Regions from separate parts of the Homo sapiens genome. Here region 1 is linked to region 2. Evidence: fine-mapped expression QTL. A gene starts in region 2. The other region holds a variant in brackets. All regions are shown on one strand. Distances are between the middles of the regions. Region 1 overlaps CNGB3 (cyclic nucleotide gated channel subunit beta 3). Region 2 holds the start of CNGB3 (cyclic nucleotide gated channel subunit beta 3).

Region 1 (8,000 bases), 50 kb before region 2:
GGCTAGCCAGTTTTCCCAGCACCATTTATTAAATAGGGAATCCTTTCCCCATTTCTTGTTTTTGTCAGGTTTGTCAAAGATCAGGTAGTTGTAGATGTGTGGTGTTATTTCTGAGGGCTGTGTTCTGTTCCATTGATCTATATCTCTGTTTTGGTACCAGTACCATGCTGTTTTGGTTACTGTAGCCTTGTAGTATAGTTTGAAGTCAGGTAGTGTGATGCCTTCAGCTTTATTCTTTTGGCTTAGGATTGACTTGGCAATGCAGGCTCTTTTTTGGTTCCATATGAACTTTAAAGTAGTTTTTTCCAATTCTGGTTTGGTATAATTTTAAGTTTTGTTTTGTTTTGTTTTTGCACCTGTTGTAAAAGGAGTTGAGTTCTTGATTTCATTCTCAGCTTGGTTGGTGTTGGTGTATAGCAGTGCTGCTGATTTGTGTACATTTATTTTGTAATCTGAAACTTTACTGAATTCATTTATAAGATCTAGGAGCTTTTTGGATGAGTGTTTAGGGTTTTCTAGGTATACAATCATATCATTGGTAAACAGCAACATTGACTTCTTCTTTATCAATTTGGATGCCATTGATTTCTTTCTCTCTTCTGATTGCTTTGCTTGAGACTTCCAGTACTATGTTGAATAGAAGTGGTGAGAGTGGGCATTCTTGTCTTATTCCAGTTCTCAGGGGAAATGCTTTCAACTTTTCCCCATTCAGTACTATGTTGGCTATGGGTTTGTCATAGATGGCTTTTATTACCTTAAGTTATGGCCCTTCTATGCCGATTGCTATCAGTTGTAGTATCTCCCATTTTGTTTCTAGTTGAGCTTCTTTGGATCTTATCTCTTCTTTTCTTGGTTAATCTTGCTAATGCTGTATTTATTTTGTTTACTTTTCAAATAACCAGTGTTTTTGTTTCATTTCTCTTTTGTATTTTTTGTTTCAATTTCATTTAGTTCTGCTCTGACTTTGGTTATTTCTTTTCTTCTGCTGGGTTGTGGGTTGGTTTGTTTTTGTTTCTCTAGCTCCTTGAGGTGTAACTTTAGATTGTCTCTTTGTGCTCTTTCAGATTTCTTGTTGCAGGTATTTAATGCTGTGAATTTTTTTCTTGGCACTGCTTTTGCTGTATCCAAGAGGTTTTGATGGGTTATGTCACTATTATTGTTCAGTTCAAATAATTTTTTAATGTTCATCTTGATTTCATTGTTGACCAAATGATCATTCAGGAACAGGTGATTTAATTTTCATGTATTTGCATGGCTTCGAGGGTTCCTTTTGGAATTGATTTTCAATTTTATTCCACTGTGGTCTGAGACAGCACTTGCTATAATTTTGATTTTCTTAAATTTATTGAGACTTGTTTCGTATTCTGTCATGTGGTCAATCTTGGGGAATGGTCCACGTACTTATGAAAAGAATGTATAGTCTGCAGTTATTGGGTAGAATGTTCTGTAAATATCTATAAAGTCCATTTGTTGTAGTTTATAGTTTAAGTCCCTTGTTTCTTTGTTGACTTTAGTCTTGATGACCTGTCTAGGGCTGTCAGTAAAGTATTGAAGACCCCCACTAATATCGTGTTGCCATCTGTCTCATTTCTTAGGTCTATTAATGATTGTTTTATAAGTTTGGGAGCTCCAGTGTTAAGTACATATATATTTAGGATTGTGATATTTTCCTATTGGACTAATCCTTTTATTATTATATAATGTCCCTCTTTGTCTTTCTTAACTGGTGTTGCTTTAAAGTCTTTTTTGTCTGTTAGAATAACAGCTACTCCTGGTTGCCTTTGTTGCCCATTTGCATGGAATGTCTTTTTTCACCCCTTTACCTTAAGTTTATGTGAGTCCTTTGTGTTAGATGAGTCTCTTGAAGACAGCAGACACTTGGTTGGTGGATTTTTATCCTTTCTGCCATTCTGTATCTTTTAAGCGGAGCATTTAGGCCATTTACATTCAATATTAGTATTGACATGTGAGGTAGGTACTGTTTTATTCATCATGCTAGTTGTTGCCTAAATACCTTTTTTTTTCATGGTGTTATTGTTATAGATTCTGTGAAGTTTTTGCTTTAAGGATGTTCCATTTTGGTGTATTTTGAGGTTTTGTTTCAAGATTTAGAGCTCCTTTTAGCAGTTCTTATAGTGCTGGCATGGTAGTGGTGAATTCTCTCAGGATTTGTTTGTCTGGGAAAGACTATATCTTTCCTTCATTTATGAAGCATAGTTTCACTGGATGCAAAATTCTTGGCTGATTATTGTTTTGTTTAAGGAGGTTAAAGACAGGACCCCAATCCCTTCTGGCTTGCAGGGTTCCTACTGAGAAATCTGCTGTTAATCTGATAGGTTTTCCTTTAAGATTACCTAATGCTTTTGCCTCATAGCTCTTAAGATGCTTTTCTTCATCTTGAGTTTAGACAACCTGATGACTGTGTGCCCAAGTGTTGATCTTTTTGCTATGAATTTCCTGGGTGTTCTTCTAGCTTCTTATATTTGGATGTCTAGATATTTAGCAAGACTAAGGAAGTTTGCCTTGATTAGTCCCTCATATAAGTTTTCCAAACTTTTGGATTTCTCTTCTTACTCAGGAACAACAATTATGTTTTGTTGTTTAATGTAATCTCAAATTTATTGGAAACTTTGTTCATTTTTTTTTATTATTATTATTATTTATTTATTTATTTATTTATTTATTTTTATTGATTATTCTTGGGTGTTTCTCGCAGAGGGGGATTTGGCAGGGTCATAGGACAATAGTGGAGGGAAGGTCAGCAGATAAACAAGTGAACAAAGGTCTCTGGTTTTCCTAGGCAGAGGACCCTGCGGCCTTCCGCAGTGTTTGTGTCCCTGGGTACTTAAGATTAGGGAGTGGTGATGACTCTTAACGAGCATGCTGCCTTCAAGCATCTGTTTAACAAAGCACATCTTGCGCCGCCCTTAATCCATTTAACCCTGAGTGGACACAGCACATGTTTCAGAGAGCACAGGGTTGGGGGTAAGGTCACAGATCAACAGGATCCCAAGGCAGAAGAATTTTTCTTAGTACAGAACAAAATGAAAAGTCTCCCATGTCTACTTCTCTCTACACAGACACGGCAACCATCCGACCTCTCAATCTTTTCCCCACCCTTCCCC[C/A]CCTCTCCATTCCACAAAACCGCCATTGTCATCATGGCCCGTTCTCAATGAGCCATTGGGTACACCTACCAGATGGGGTGGTGGCCGGGCAGAGGGGCTCCTCACTTCCCAGTAGGGGTGGCCGGGCAGAGGCGCCCCTCACCTCCCGGACGGGGCGGCTGGCCGGGCGGGGGGGCTGACCCCCCCACCTCCCTCCCAGACGGGGCGGCTGGCCGGGCGGGGGGCTGACCCCCCCACCTCCCTCCTGGACGGGGCGGCTGGCCGGGCGGGGGGCTGACCCCCCCCACCTCCCTCCCGGACGGGGCGGCTGGCCGGGCGGGGGGCTGACCCCCCCACCTCCCTCCTGGATGGGGCGGCTGGCCGGGCAAAGGGGCTCCTCACTTCCCAGTAGGGGCGGCCGGGCTGAGGCGCCCCTCACCTCCCGGATGGGGCGGCTGGCCGGGCGGGGGGCTGACCCCCCCACTTCCCTCCCGGACGGGGTGGCTGGCCTGGCGGGGGCTGACCCCCACCTCCCTCCCGGACGGGGTGGCTGCCGGGCGGAGACGCTCCTCACTTCCCAGACGGGGTGGCTGCCGGACGGAGGGTCTCCTCACTTCTCAGATGGGGCGGCTGCCGGGTGGCGGGACTCCTCACTTCTCAGACGGGGTGGTTGCCAGGCATAGGGTCTCCTCACTTCTCAGACGGGGCGGCCGGGCAGAGACGCTCCTCACCTCCCAGACAGGGTCGCGGCCGGGCAGAGGCACTCCTCACATCCCAGATGGGGCGGCGGGGTAGAGGCGCTCCCCACATCTCAGACGATGGGTGGCCGGGCAGAGACGCTCCTCACTTCCTAGATGGGATGGCGGCGGGGAAGAGGCGCTCCTCACTTCCTAGATGGGATGGTGGCTGGGCAGAGACGCTCCTCACTTTCCAGACTGAGCAGCCAGGCAGAGGGGCTCCTCACGTCCCAGACGATGGGCGGCCAGGCAGAGACTCTCCTCACTTCCCAGACGGGGTGGCGCCCGGGCAGAGGCTGCAATCTCAGCACTTTGGGAGGCTAAGGCAGGCGGCTGGGAGGTGGTTGTAGCGAGCCGAGATCACGCCACTGCACTCCAGCCTGGGCATCATTGAGCACTGAGTGAACGAGACTCCGTCTGCAATCCCGGCACCTCGGGAGGCCAAGGCTGGCGGATCACTCGCGGTAAGGAGCTGGAGACCAGCCTGGCCAACACAGCGAAACCCCGTCTCCACCAAAAAAATACGAAAACCAGTCAGGCGTGGCGGTGGCGCCTGCAATCGCAGGCACTCGGCAGGCACTCGGCAGGAGAATCAGGCAGGGAGGTTGCAGTGAGCCGAGATGGCAGCAGTACAGTCCAGCTTCGGCTCGGCATCAGAGGGAGACCGTGGAAAGAGAGGGAGAGGGAGACCATGGGGAGGGGGAGAGGGAGAGGGAGAGGGAGAGCCTTTGTTCATTTTTTAAAAAATTATTTTTTTCTTTGTCAGATCAGGTTAATTCGAAGGCCTTGTCTTTGAGCTCTGAAGTTCATTCTTCTACTTGTTCAATTCTATTGTTGAAACCTTCCAGTGTATTTTGCATTTCTCTAAGTGTGTCTTTCATTTCCAGACGTTGTAATTGTCTTTTCTTTACGATATCTATCTTTCTATGGAATTTTTCATTCATATCCTCCTTTTTGTTTTTAATTTCTTTAAGTTGGTTTTCACCTTTCTCTGGTGGCTCCTTGAGTAGCTTAATAATCAACCTTCTGAATTCTTCATCTGTCAGTTCAGAGATTTCATCTTGGTTTGGATCCATTGCTGGAGAGCTAGTGTGATCTTTTGGGGGTGTTATAGAACCTCATTTAATAGTATTACTAGAATTACTTTTTTAGTTCCTTCTCATTTGGGAAAGATTTTGGACTCAAGGGCTGCTGTTCAGATTCTGTTGTCCCATGGAGTAATCCCTTGATTTGGTGCTCTCCCCCTTCTCTTCGAGATGGGGCTTCCTGAGAGCTAGACCACAGTGATTGTTATTGTTCTTCTGAATCCAGCCACCCAGTAGGGCTACTGGGTGCCAGGCTGGTGCTGAGGAATGTCTGAAAAGTGTCCTGTGATTTGATCTATCTTCAGGTCTCCCAGCCATGGATTCCAGCACCTGCTCTGGTGGAGGTGGCAGGAGAGTAAAAGGGACTCTATGGGAGTCCTTGGTTGTAGTTATTTTTTGGTGTGCTGGTTTTCTTGAATGCTGGTTATGCTAGCAGTCAAGTTGTCATGTGGATGGACTCAGGACCTCTGATTAGCCAGGGCGTTGCAGGCAGTGGAGTTATCTATTGTTTTCTCCTTCTTTAGAGCAGGGTGTTCTGTTATGAGTTGCTGTAATGGCTTGAGTTGATTGGCCTCCTGTCAGGAGGTGGTGCTTCCAAGAGAGTACAGCTGCAGTAGTAGAAGGGGGATATAATCTTGCCCTGAGTTGGCCAGGATGAGTACTCAGGTTTCTCAGGTGATGAGTGGGGCCATAGAGATCCCAAGAGCTTACGTCTTTTGTCTTCAGGGTTTTTTGGCTGGTTTTTGGCATCTGCAGTGACAAGCCACTTCTTTCAAAGGGTCTGTGAATTCTTCCAGTTTTTCCAGTATGTTCCTACAGTGGTTCTTGGAGCAAAAGTTCATAATGTGTGTCTCCAGACACTGTTCTATCCATCCAGTGGGAGCTGCGTGTTAGTCCTGTCTTCTATCCACCATTTTTCCTATGATTGTTATATCCTCTTGCTGAATTGACACCTTTATCATTATATAAAGACCTTCTTTGACTCTTTTTAGAATTTTGTTTTGAAATTTATTTTGCCTTATATACACATAGCTACTCCTGCTTCGTTTTGGTTTTTAATGGCATGGCATATCTTTTTCCATCTCTTTATTTTCAGTCTCTGTGTGTCTTTATAGGTGAAGTGTGTATCTTTTAATCCGTTCAGCCACAGTATGTCTTTTGGTTGGTGAGTTTGGTCCATTTACTTTCAATGTTATCATTGAATATAAAATAATGAGTTATAGTATATTATTTGCAACCCTCATGATAAGCTCAAATCAAAAAACATGCAACAGATGCAAAAAAATGAATTAAAACATACCACCAGAGAAGATCACCTTCACTAAAAAGAGACAGGAAGGAAGGAAAGAAAGAAGGAAGAGAAGACCACAAATCAACCAGAAAGCAAATAACAAACTGGCAAGATGAAGTCCTTACTTATGGATGATAACATATTTTGGGTGGATAGTTGTTCAATTGGTGTTCTTGTAGGAAGTAAGATTGCTTGAGGCTTCTATTTGGCTACCTTGCACTGCCTCCAAAATCTGCTTGCATTTGTTTTACTCTGTTATTTCAATTTACTACTCTTTATTCCATCACAGATATATTAACTATCCTATCTTATTTTATTTATGGATTTGGAATCTATGAGTTTATCTTGGTCCTGGCAAAGAATTGTTGATCTTCACAATACAAAATATAGATTCTGTAGTTATATCATTAGAGATCAAGTTAACACTCTTAATACAGAGTCTGTAGTTATGTCATTAGAGATCAGGTTCATTTATTAAAATTCAGTGGGCACAATTGTTCAGCTTGCTATGAATTCACTGGTACACTTTTCCAACTGTATGAAAGATATTACAAGACATTTTCAAATTATTTACTAAAATAATATTAATTGGACTTTAAAAAAATTTTAGCAAAACTCACTTGCTATCTAGGAACCCTTTTCTTATTTTATTTAATTGTTTATTATACTTTAAGTTCTAGGGTACATGTGCACAACGTGCAGGTTTGTTACATATGTATACATGTGCCATGTTGGTGTGCTGCACCTGTTAACTCATCATTTACATTAAGTATATCTCCTAATGCTATCCCTCCCTCCTCCCCCCACCCCATGACAGGCCCTGGTATGTGATGTTCCCCACCCTGTGTCCTAGTGTTCTCATTGTTCAGTTCCCACCTATGAGTGAGAACATGTGGTGTTTGGTTTTCTGTCCTTGCGATAGTTTGCTCAGAATGATGGTTTCCAGCTTCATCCATGTCTCTACAAAGGACGTGAACTCATCCTTTTTTATGGCTGTATAGTATTCCATGGTGTATACGTGCCACGTTTTCTTAATCCAGTCTATCATTGGTGGACATTTGGGAACCTTTTATTTTCTAAGTGCTCAAAAATCACATTTAGCCATTGATTCTGGTGTTCTGCCAAAGATCTGATAAAGCTGTGTGACCGATAGTTTCCAGATTCTATATCATATCCCTCTTTGAAAATGAATTCATTTGTTCATTTGTATACAGCAGATTCAAGTTATTAGTAAATGAAGATTCTTCTAAATGTCATTTGTTATTTAGATAGTCTTTGAAAACCAAATATAAGTATCATTTTCATCAGGGACAAATAACAGATTTGAATCTACCTTTGTATGAATGTTATTATGACTTTATAGTCTAGGTTAGCTAATTCTCTTTAATGAGTGGAATAAAAAGCACATTTCAACCTTGTACTTGGTGGAGGCTTTAATTGGGGCAAGGACATTTTTATACAAAGATAGAGAAAACAATCGCCTATGGAATTTGATTCCTTGCTCCATTCCCTCGCTAGCACCTCTCCACATGCTTGATGATATTTAAAATTTCTTCATAGGGAAAAAGCTTTTCATCCCACAATTAGAATCAGGCTTAACTTGCTTTTTGAAGAGGTAGTAGGTAATTTGTGTTAAGATATAAATTACCAAGATTTTTGTATCTTGAAACAGATTTAGATGATAGAGTGAGGTAGGTGGTGGTGGTTGGTGGGAAGGGGTAGTTTGTTAGAGAGGGTGTTAAGAGTTGGGATTTTCAACGTGAGAGAGGTGAAGGTTTGAAAA
Region 2 (8,471 bases):
GTGTGCCTCAGGATGTTCCTACAGGGGCAGAGTGAAACAAGATATGAGGTTAGAACATAAAGATTGACTCCCAAGCTATGCACAGTCTAGAAGGGGAAACAAACACACAAAAATGTTAAGTGCAAGAAAATGTAGGTGACGAATCAATGTCTGTAGAGGATTAGGATGGGGCATAAACAGGAAGTGGTCAATTCTACTGGAGTAGAAGGGAAAGAAAGGAAACTATTCCAAAGAAAGTGACTCTTGACTTTATAAAGATAAGATTTTTGTTTTCCACATGGAGAGGACTTAGAAAATATTCCAGGCAGATGATGCAGGTTTAGCAAAAGCCAAAGGCGTGACTGTACATAGGTGGGGAGAGACTACAGTAGGAGTGGTTGGATGGGACAAAGGGTGAGTAGATGAGGCTTGAGAGTAGGCAGGGACCAGAAGGACACTGAGAGTCTTGTGTGCCTGCTATAGAGTTTTGACATTATTTATAAGCCTTGTGTTTCATAGAAGCATTTTAAACTAAAAAATAAATTAATTGGCTGATTTTCACTTAAGCCTCACAATAACCATATACATTAGGCAAGGCAGCTATTATTATTAATATTATTATATTATTGAATATGAAATTGATTGAGTGGCTAGTTTATATGAACGTAGCTAGAAAGGTATAAGTCCAGGACTATTTATAAACAGTGAAAAAGCCTTCTGACTTCAATCAAGTCCTTTTGCATCGTTATGATGTTATTCATAAATATTTATATCATAGTCTTTATGTGTATACAAATGTAGATTTATGTGAAGAGTGTCTTCTTCTGGGGTAAGAGAGAGTTTGGATTAGACTGATTTGCAGTTCTTAAATTATTGTTTATTGATAGGTGAGAATTACCCATGACATTTTGGTGTGTAAATGAGCTCTTTAAATGACTCTTTAAAAAACACAACATACATTGATATATTTATTCCTAGATATTTGCTTATAAGACTCTAATCATTTATTCATAGTTCAGAGGCTTATTGTTTAAATGCCATTTTGAAAGGTCGAATTCCGTGAAAGAAAACAGGATTTTAACTTTCTGTCATTTTTAACATTTAGCATATTTGAAATTGGAGATAAACTATTTTTTCCCATACCCACATGTTCTTGGAAAGAACAGATGCAAATAATTGCCCAAATATGACTTTTAAGATATAATGTGGCTGAGCACAGTGGCTCATGCGTGTAATCCCAACACTTTGCAAGGACAAGGTGGGCGGAACACCTGAGGCCGAGAGTTTGAGACCAGCCTGGCCAACATGGTGAAACCCCGTCTCTACTAAAAATACAAAAAAATGAGCTGGGTGTGGTGGCATGTGCCTGTAATCCCAGCTACTCGGGAGGCTGAGGCAGGAGAATCGTTTGAACCCAGGACACAGAGGTTGCAGCGAGTCAAGATTGCACCACTGCACTCCAGCCTGGGCGACAGAATGAGACTCTGTCTCAAAAAAAACAAAAAAAAAAAATCTAATGTGATGCCAGTAGACTTCGCGATTAATATCCACAAATTATGGCTGTTGGAATGGCATGGGATATACCTAAGGGGTGCTCTACCTGTGCCTAATCTAAGTACTTCTCCAATATTCCTGTTTTGAAAGGAAAGATAACTCTTTAAGAAGTTTCTCTTCTTTTTTCGCCTTCTCTCTAATTTCCGTTTATCCTGCAGGCAAAGTATCTTAAAGGGTTGACTCAACTAATATCCCTCCTGTTTTGAGCAGTATAGCCTAGTGATTTAGCTCTCAGGTGCTGAATTCAGATAGGACTTGGTTCCAATCCAGGCTCTGCCATTTGCTAGCTATGTGTAAGGAGCAAATTGTAATAGGACCTGTGACTGTTGTGAGGATTAAATACAGTAGCCCTAGAAAAGGGCTTAGCACCTTGCTTGGCAAATAGTAATTGCTGTTAGTTACAATGTTCTCCAAGAGAATAATATATTAGCTATTAACGGTTTTTATGTGCTCCCTTGGAAAATAATCACAGTAGGCAAGGGTTAAAGATGGATGTAGTGACTTTCCCAGAGCAAAACACAGCAAGACTAGCTGAAGGAAAGTACCAGCTCAATATTTGTGACATTGTATGAGTTCTTAAACATATAGATAACTTAGTGTGGGATTATTTATTTTGACATAAGAATTAGAAAGAAGTCAAGGGCACTCTCTCGAAGCAATACTAACACAGTCCTCCTCATCTCCTCTCTACTGCAAAGCAGTCAACATTAATCAGAAAAGGAAGGCAGATTTTCCACGGCCCATGTTAAATAGTCTCAGTGTTGTCTATCCTCTAGGCTCATTTAAACCCGAACCATTGGACTATGCTCCCCTAGTCCCTGAGGAGCACTCCTGCTTGTACTTGTCATCTCTCATCCAGCTGTTTCAGATGGCAAAATAACTACTGCTCTAAAAATCTTCTGTAGCTCTTTTAGATAATTCTAGTGAGTAATTCACGAAAATTATTCTGTGGATAGTTCTAAGTAAATATTGCTCTTGTAATGATCACTTAGGACTTAAACCTGTCACAGAAACACAAATTCTTATTAATAATAATAATAGCCACTTGTAAAGTACCTACCATGTGCTTTATATATTACTGTCTCTAGTTCTCATAACAAAGCAGAAATTATCATATACATTTTGCAGAAAAATATATTTAGAACTTGTGAAAAGGCTTGTTTAAAGTTCCTCCACCTTGGCAGTATTAAAATTTTGTAGTGTATAATTCTACGTTGTGGAGGGCTGTCCTGTACATGATAGGATGTTGAGCAGCATCTGCAGACTTTACCCACTGGATGCCAGTAACATCCCCACCCCGGAGCTATGACAACTGAAAGTGTCCCCAGATTTGCCAAATGTCCCTTGAGTGGTAAAATCGCTCTCAATTGAGAGCCAATAGGTTTCCTATTGCTCTAGAGATTTATTGTTAACATGTGGTTTATGAAGACCAGGATACTTGATGTTCTTTGTTGAAACTCAATCAAGTAACCAATTTAATATTTGAGAAATGGTTTCATTTTGGATGATGGTAGAAGTGAAAATCAGCAATGAGAAGTCTTACTTGGCTTTTCCAAATCCTAGTATAGTCTCCTAAACATTTATTATTCTTTTTATGAACAAATACATACAGAATATATAAATTAATGAAGATAAGCCCGACACAGTACATGTACCAGATGGTGCCAGGTAAAACTACTAAACAATCATATATCGTAGCAGTGATTAAATGCTATTACCAGATAAGAAATGATGAAAATCAAGGCTTGCATAGGAATGTAGAGGACATACCTGTGCTGTGGTTTGCTGAGACTGATTACTTGGGTGAGAGCCTTCTTCATTCCGACGAGAACTTTGTTCATTCTCATTGTTCTCTCCTATAGGCTTCACCTTGTTGACTTTTGTCAGCGATTTAAACATCTTCTCTGAGGTGGTTCTGAAAACCCTCTGTATTTATGACTGTGCCTTAAGGTAGAGAAATGTACTTTGTTTTCCTTTTCTTTAGTAGACAAGCCAATTAGCTGTTTAATCAGGATTTTGTTCTGGTTAATTCCTACAGGCAACTCCTTAGCTAGTCAGGGCTTTGGCTTAAAAGCAGCAAAATACTTCTGCTTGGGTGATTTGCACTCTGTTTATGAACTTTAGGGAGTCAAAATGATCTTGTGAATAATTTAGAAGTAGAGGATTAAACACAGCTTCATAGTTGATTTGAATGGTTTAAATGTGATCACACAACACATTGTTTTCTTTCTTTTTTTTTCCTTCTAATTACCCACCTACTTATCTTTATCTGTCTAACTTTATGCAAAGTAATATGGAAATGATTAAAAAAAATCCATGAGGGCTTATGATATGAAGCAACTCATTCACTCCTCAAAATCCCCTTCTCTGGTCCTGCAATGTTAGGCCACTATTTTTAAGCTTTCTTTTTCTGTTCTTCTGGTGGTTGATTTCCACATGGCTAAACAAAAAAAAATCTGCTTATTCTACTCTGCCTCTGTGTGTGTGTGTGTCACTTTTGACCCCAAACCTGTGTGAGGCAAAGATACAAGACTAAGATTTGTTAAAGAGAACTTTTTTTTCCCCTTTGCCCGGAGCCCAGACAAAGTTGATGTTCTATGCTGTTGGATGAGATTTTTTAGTGCACCAAAGACGCATGATTTTTTTTAAAGGGGTTCTGTTTTTGTTTTTGTTTTTAATGAGAGCACTTATCTTCTGCAGTTTCAAATTAAAACCAAAGCCTTTATGCAACAAGGTACACACCCACACCCAGGGCAGCCTAAGTCAACCCATCAAATACTTCTTGCCCTCTGTATTTTTGCAATCTGGAAATTTCCTTGAGATACTAGTTATGTATTTTAAGATACGTTTATTACAGTTAATACAGAAAAAAGCCTTTAAGTATTTATGAAGAAAGCATTTTAATTTAGATTTCATATTACCAAAATCGCAGTTCCCTTATGGATTTTTAAAATAAATTAGAAGTTTTAATTTTAGATTCAACCATTTTATCAAAAATAAACTTACCTAATAAATAACGTAATTGAATACATGATTTGACTTATATGGCCTGGAAACACAAAGCTATTTATTTTTGTTAAAAAATGGTGGGGGGTGTTTTGGTTCCATTATTGCTTCAGAAATAATTCTGAATAGATTATCAAATATGTATAGGGCCATTTTAGGAACTTTTCAGATAATCCTGTAATCCTGTAATTGATTACATTTTGAACTTTGGGTATAAGCATAGAAGCTAAGCCAAAGGAAGGGAAGGTGTTAACAGCCAGCCTGTGACTAATTTTTTCCCTTCCTAAGACCTGCAGAGGAAAAAATGACCTCACCAGACTTTCGTATAAATCTCATAGTATTTATCAGTGGAAAGATACCAGGGAGTCCCTATTTATGAAACTTTTTTAGCAGGACATTTCTGGTCTGTCTAGATTGCTTATTGTAAATAAGCCTGGAATTTAGCAGGCTGGCTGGAGAATGGAGAGAGAGGTGCTATGTAAGCTCTGTAAGAGAATGTGGAACGAAGATGTCCCCAAACCAAACTGCCTTCTTTTTGTGAGAAATGTTTTTGCAGACAATGCTCAAAAATTACTTGTAAATGCAAAACCAAAATATGCCAACTGCAGGAGAAAAATGGTCTGTTTTGTTTGGATGCTGTGTCTGACAGTTTGGGGTTTTTCCCAAAATGAATGTTTTGTTTATTCCTGATGGCGGCTTGTAGCCAACGAATCATTAATAAAGTTTGGTGCTATGTAAGATCTGTGATTCTGGCTAGTCTGTTTTGACAATTTAACCCTTTAGATTTGTCACAGGTCAGAATAAATGGGATGGAGATATTATTAAATAATTCAAGCACCTTTAAAATGATTTAAAATACCTCCAACAACCTGATTTTTGACAATAGAGTGGCATTAACATGGGCATTAAAATTATAAATGACTACTTTTATTTTGTCTAGATCAGAGGTCTCAAAGTTTGGAAAATGGACAACTAGAAAGAATTCTGGAATGAAGGACATGAATTTTGGATCATTCTTTTTCACTTTAGTAGCTCTGTGGACTAAAGTAAATCTCTTGCCTTAACCTGGAAATAACTAGGTTGGGAAAAAACAATGTTTGTTTTCTTCTGGTTTTAAATTCTGTGATTTGTGGTCTTCCACAGAGGAGCTCTTCTAATCAGCAAGAAGATAAGGGAAGAAGGAGGGTTGCTTATTCTGGGTGAAATGGCTTACTAGAATTTCACCAATAACAATTTAATTTTTTTGTACCAAGTTGCCATATTGCTGAGGTAGTGTATGACAATGGGAATAAAAACAATTTTTCTTCAATATAACGGACTGTTTGTCTAACTGAAGCCCCTCAGCCACTCCTCCTTCTCTACAGCATAAATGTATAAACTCCTTACCAGGACATTCCCGGCCTTATATCATTGACCTTTGCCTAACTCTAGTTTAATCTGTAACCCCGACCTCTCTTTTGGCTCTTGCCATAATCAGTAATTTAAAATAGCTTGAACTTCTCTGCTTTTTCTTGCCTGTACCCATGTCTTTGCTCATGTGTACTGTTCCCCTGCCTGCAACGCTGTTCCACTTCTTGTCTATCTAGCTTAAGCTTGGTGTTTCCTTCTCCTACCGTTCCTCTCTTCTACCATGGACAGCTATACCTATAATCCTGTCTTTTTGTTGCAATTGTATCTGTGCCATACAGAGATCTCTACTTTGTCACTTCTCATTTTACAGCCATGTCCAGGTCTATTTTCTCTATTAGAGCATAAGCTCCTGCAGGCAGAGACTATGCTTTGGCCACCTTCAGATTCCTGTGCCCAGCTCAGTGCTTGACATATTCTAGGTACTCCATGAATGTTTGTTGAATAAATAACAGGAAGAAGATGGTATAGACCATCTCTTAGTTCTAGATTAACAGTGAAGAGATTCTCTGTGGTAGATGCAGTGTGTAAGAGAAGTGGAAAAAATCTCCCTGGAAGAATGCAAATGTTGTAGCCTCATTGTTTTTTATTAGTAGCCATTGCAGGCTGAAGTTGGGATAGGCTGAGAGAAGCATGCATAAAATAATGGTATGTTTTAAAACAAATGGTGTCTTAGATACCGTAGATGGTATACAGATGGCACATAGGAATATAACACGTAAAATACAAATCAGATGGTAATAAAGCTATGCTAAAACAAAAAGATTATCATCATTAGCAAACAGTTCCATATTCTTGTTGTGACTAGTAATTTTATTTTCAGCAGAGCATTAGCCATCTTACAGACAGCATTGTTTTAATCTTATTGATTTTTAAGTTTTATGTTAAATTTTCAAACAAGTTTTAGCTTTATGGTTCTATAAAAATTATAAGCAAATGAAGATTATATCTAGTTTCAGGTTGGAACATATTTAAGTATTATTCTTATGAATTATTCAAATAGGATCTGTAATAAAGTTTTCACTTAATAGGAGTCAGGTTTGGGAAATGCTATCTTTCTTTGAGGGAATCTTTAATGATGGAATTTCAGACATTCCCACTGGGGGCAATTTTGAACGAGGAGGACTTTCTTCTGGTAATTCTCAAATCACAGTCTCCTCTGCTTCTGGACGGGGTCAAGGGTTGAAGACTTGTTTGTTTTTGGCAAATTATTGGAAACAAATTAAGGTTATAAAACCAACTAAGGTTATATTTTCCCCTATGTCTACTAGAAAGAAACATTTAGGCAATTTTCCAAGATCTTTCTGAATTAAGTTCAAGTAGTCTGAATATTATTTCAATAAGAGAAGAGCAACCACCGAGTATAAAGGGAATAGCTGGTTTACAGTAGATAACCTAAAACAGTAATTGAAGGGAAACTCCCAGAAGTTTTCCCCCATCTCAGGTTCAGGGCTGTGTATTTTTAGGAGAAGATAATAACCTGGTAACAAACCTGAACACTGACCAAGTTCTGAAAAATTAACTACGCTGAATATACTTAATAAGGCAGGAAAACAGGTGAGTAAATTATGAGCTTTTTTAAAAAAAATTATAAGACTTTAGAGAAAAAAGTTACTAGCAATGTCTGGTTACCTGCGAACAAGGTTTAGGTGCTCATCTACAAAATGGAAGCTGGAATAACAGGCTAGATTACACAAGCCAAGGAATAAGATGACAGACAAAAATTCCCTGCTGTAAGTTAAATTCTCAACAAATATTTGCCAATCAATTGAATAAAACAAATTGTGTTTTCTGAAGCACTCAAATTTAAAATACTCTGTATATTAAAGCATATAATTCTATTGAGCAGTGAAGATTTGGCTTCTTAGTGTGTGTCAGGTGCTCAGCTAGCTGCTGTGGGGTATACAGAGATGACCAAAATATGGCATCTGCCTGTGCACACTCACCTTTTGGGACGGAAAGATGGAAGGTTTATAGACAATCTCAAGACAGCTTCCATAATGGCAGTGTGCGAGCCATGCCACCTAAGCAGAGAAGAGCAGGTGACCAAGTCTGCCTTTGTGTGAATGGACTGTAAAATGGGGAGTAAAGCTCTGCGGAGGAGCTAATGCTCATGACAGGTTTTGAAAGATGAGAGATATTCCAGGCAGATGTTGAAAGGTCCAGACATCAGAAACAACATCCAGTGAATTAAGGTATTACAATAGTTAGCAGTTTATGTGGCCAGCACAGTGCCCTTAATATAGTAGATACATAACAAAGACTTGTTAAACTACTGTTGAGTATTAACAATAAACATGAAACATATACAATTTTCTTTATATATACTATGTAGACCATATCAGTCTCAAAAGAAACTGATGGCATTGATTTTATGTTCTTTTAATTATTGTAGGATTAGCAAAACGTTAACTTTGCATTCAAAAAATAAATATTCAAAGAACATTTCTGAGTATATTTATTTTTCTTGATGATATTGACTAATGATCTTATGAAGTGGAATTATAGCAACTGATACTTAGAGG

What was found. PIP is the estimated chance that this variant, and not a neighbour inherited with it, causes the effect.
Region 1: its variant is fine-mapped to the expression of CNGB3 in testis (GTEx, PIP 0.94).

The regions. Positions count from the first base shown.
Region 1 is chr8:86,690,777-86,698,776 of GRCh38, forward strand. All of the region lies in intron 3 of CNGB3 (cyclic nucleotide gated channel subunit beta 3), which reads right to left. Among named protein-coding and RNA genes, the nearest start is that of CNGB3, 49 kb to the right of the region's middle. RefSeq lists an enhancer at 3,247-3,892. The variant C/A (reference allele first, on the strand shown) is at 3,126.
Region 2 is chr8:86,740,196-86,748,666 of GRCh38, forward strand. CNGB3 (cyclic nucleotide gated channel subunit beta 3) reads right to left here and starts at 3,439. Exons shown (of 18, transcript NM_019098.5): 1 at 3,304-3,439. The coding sequence starts at 3,432.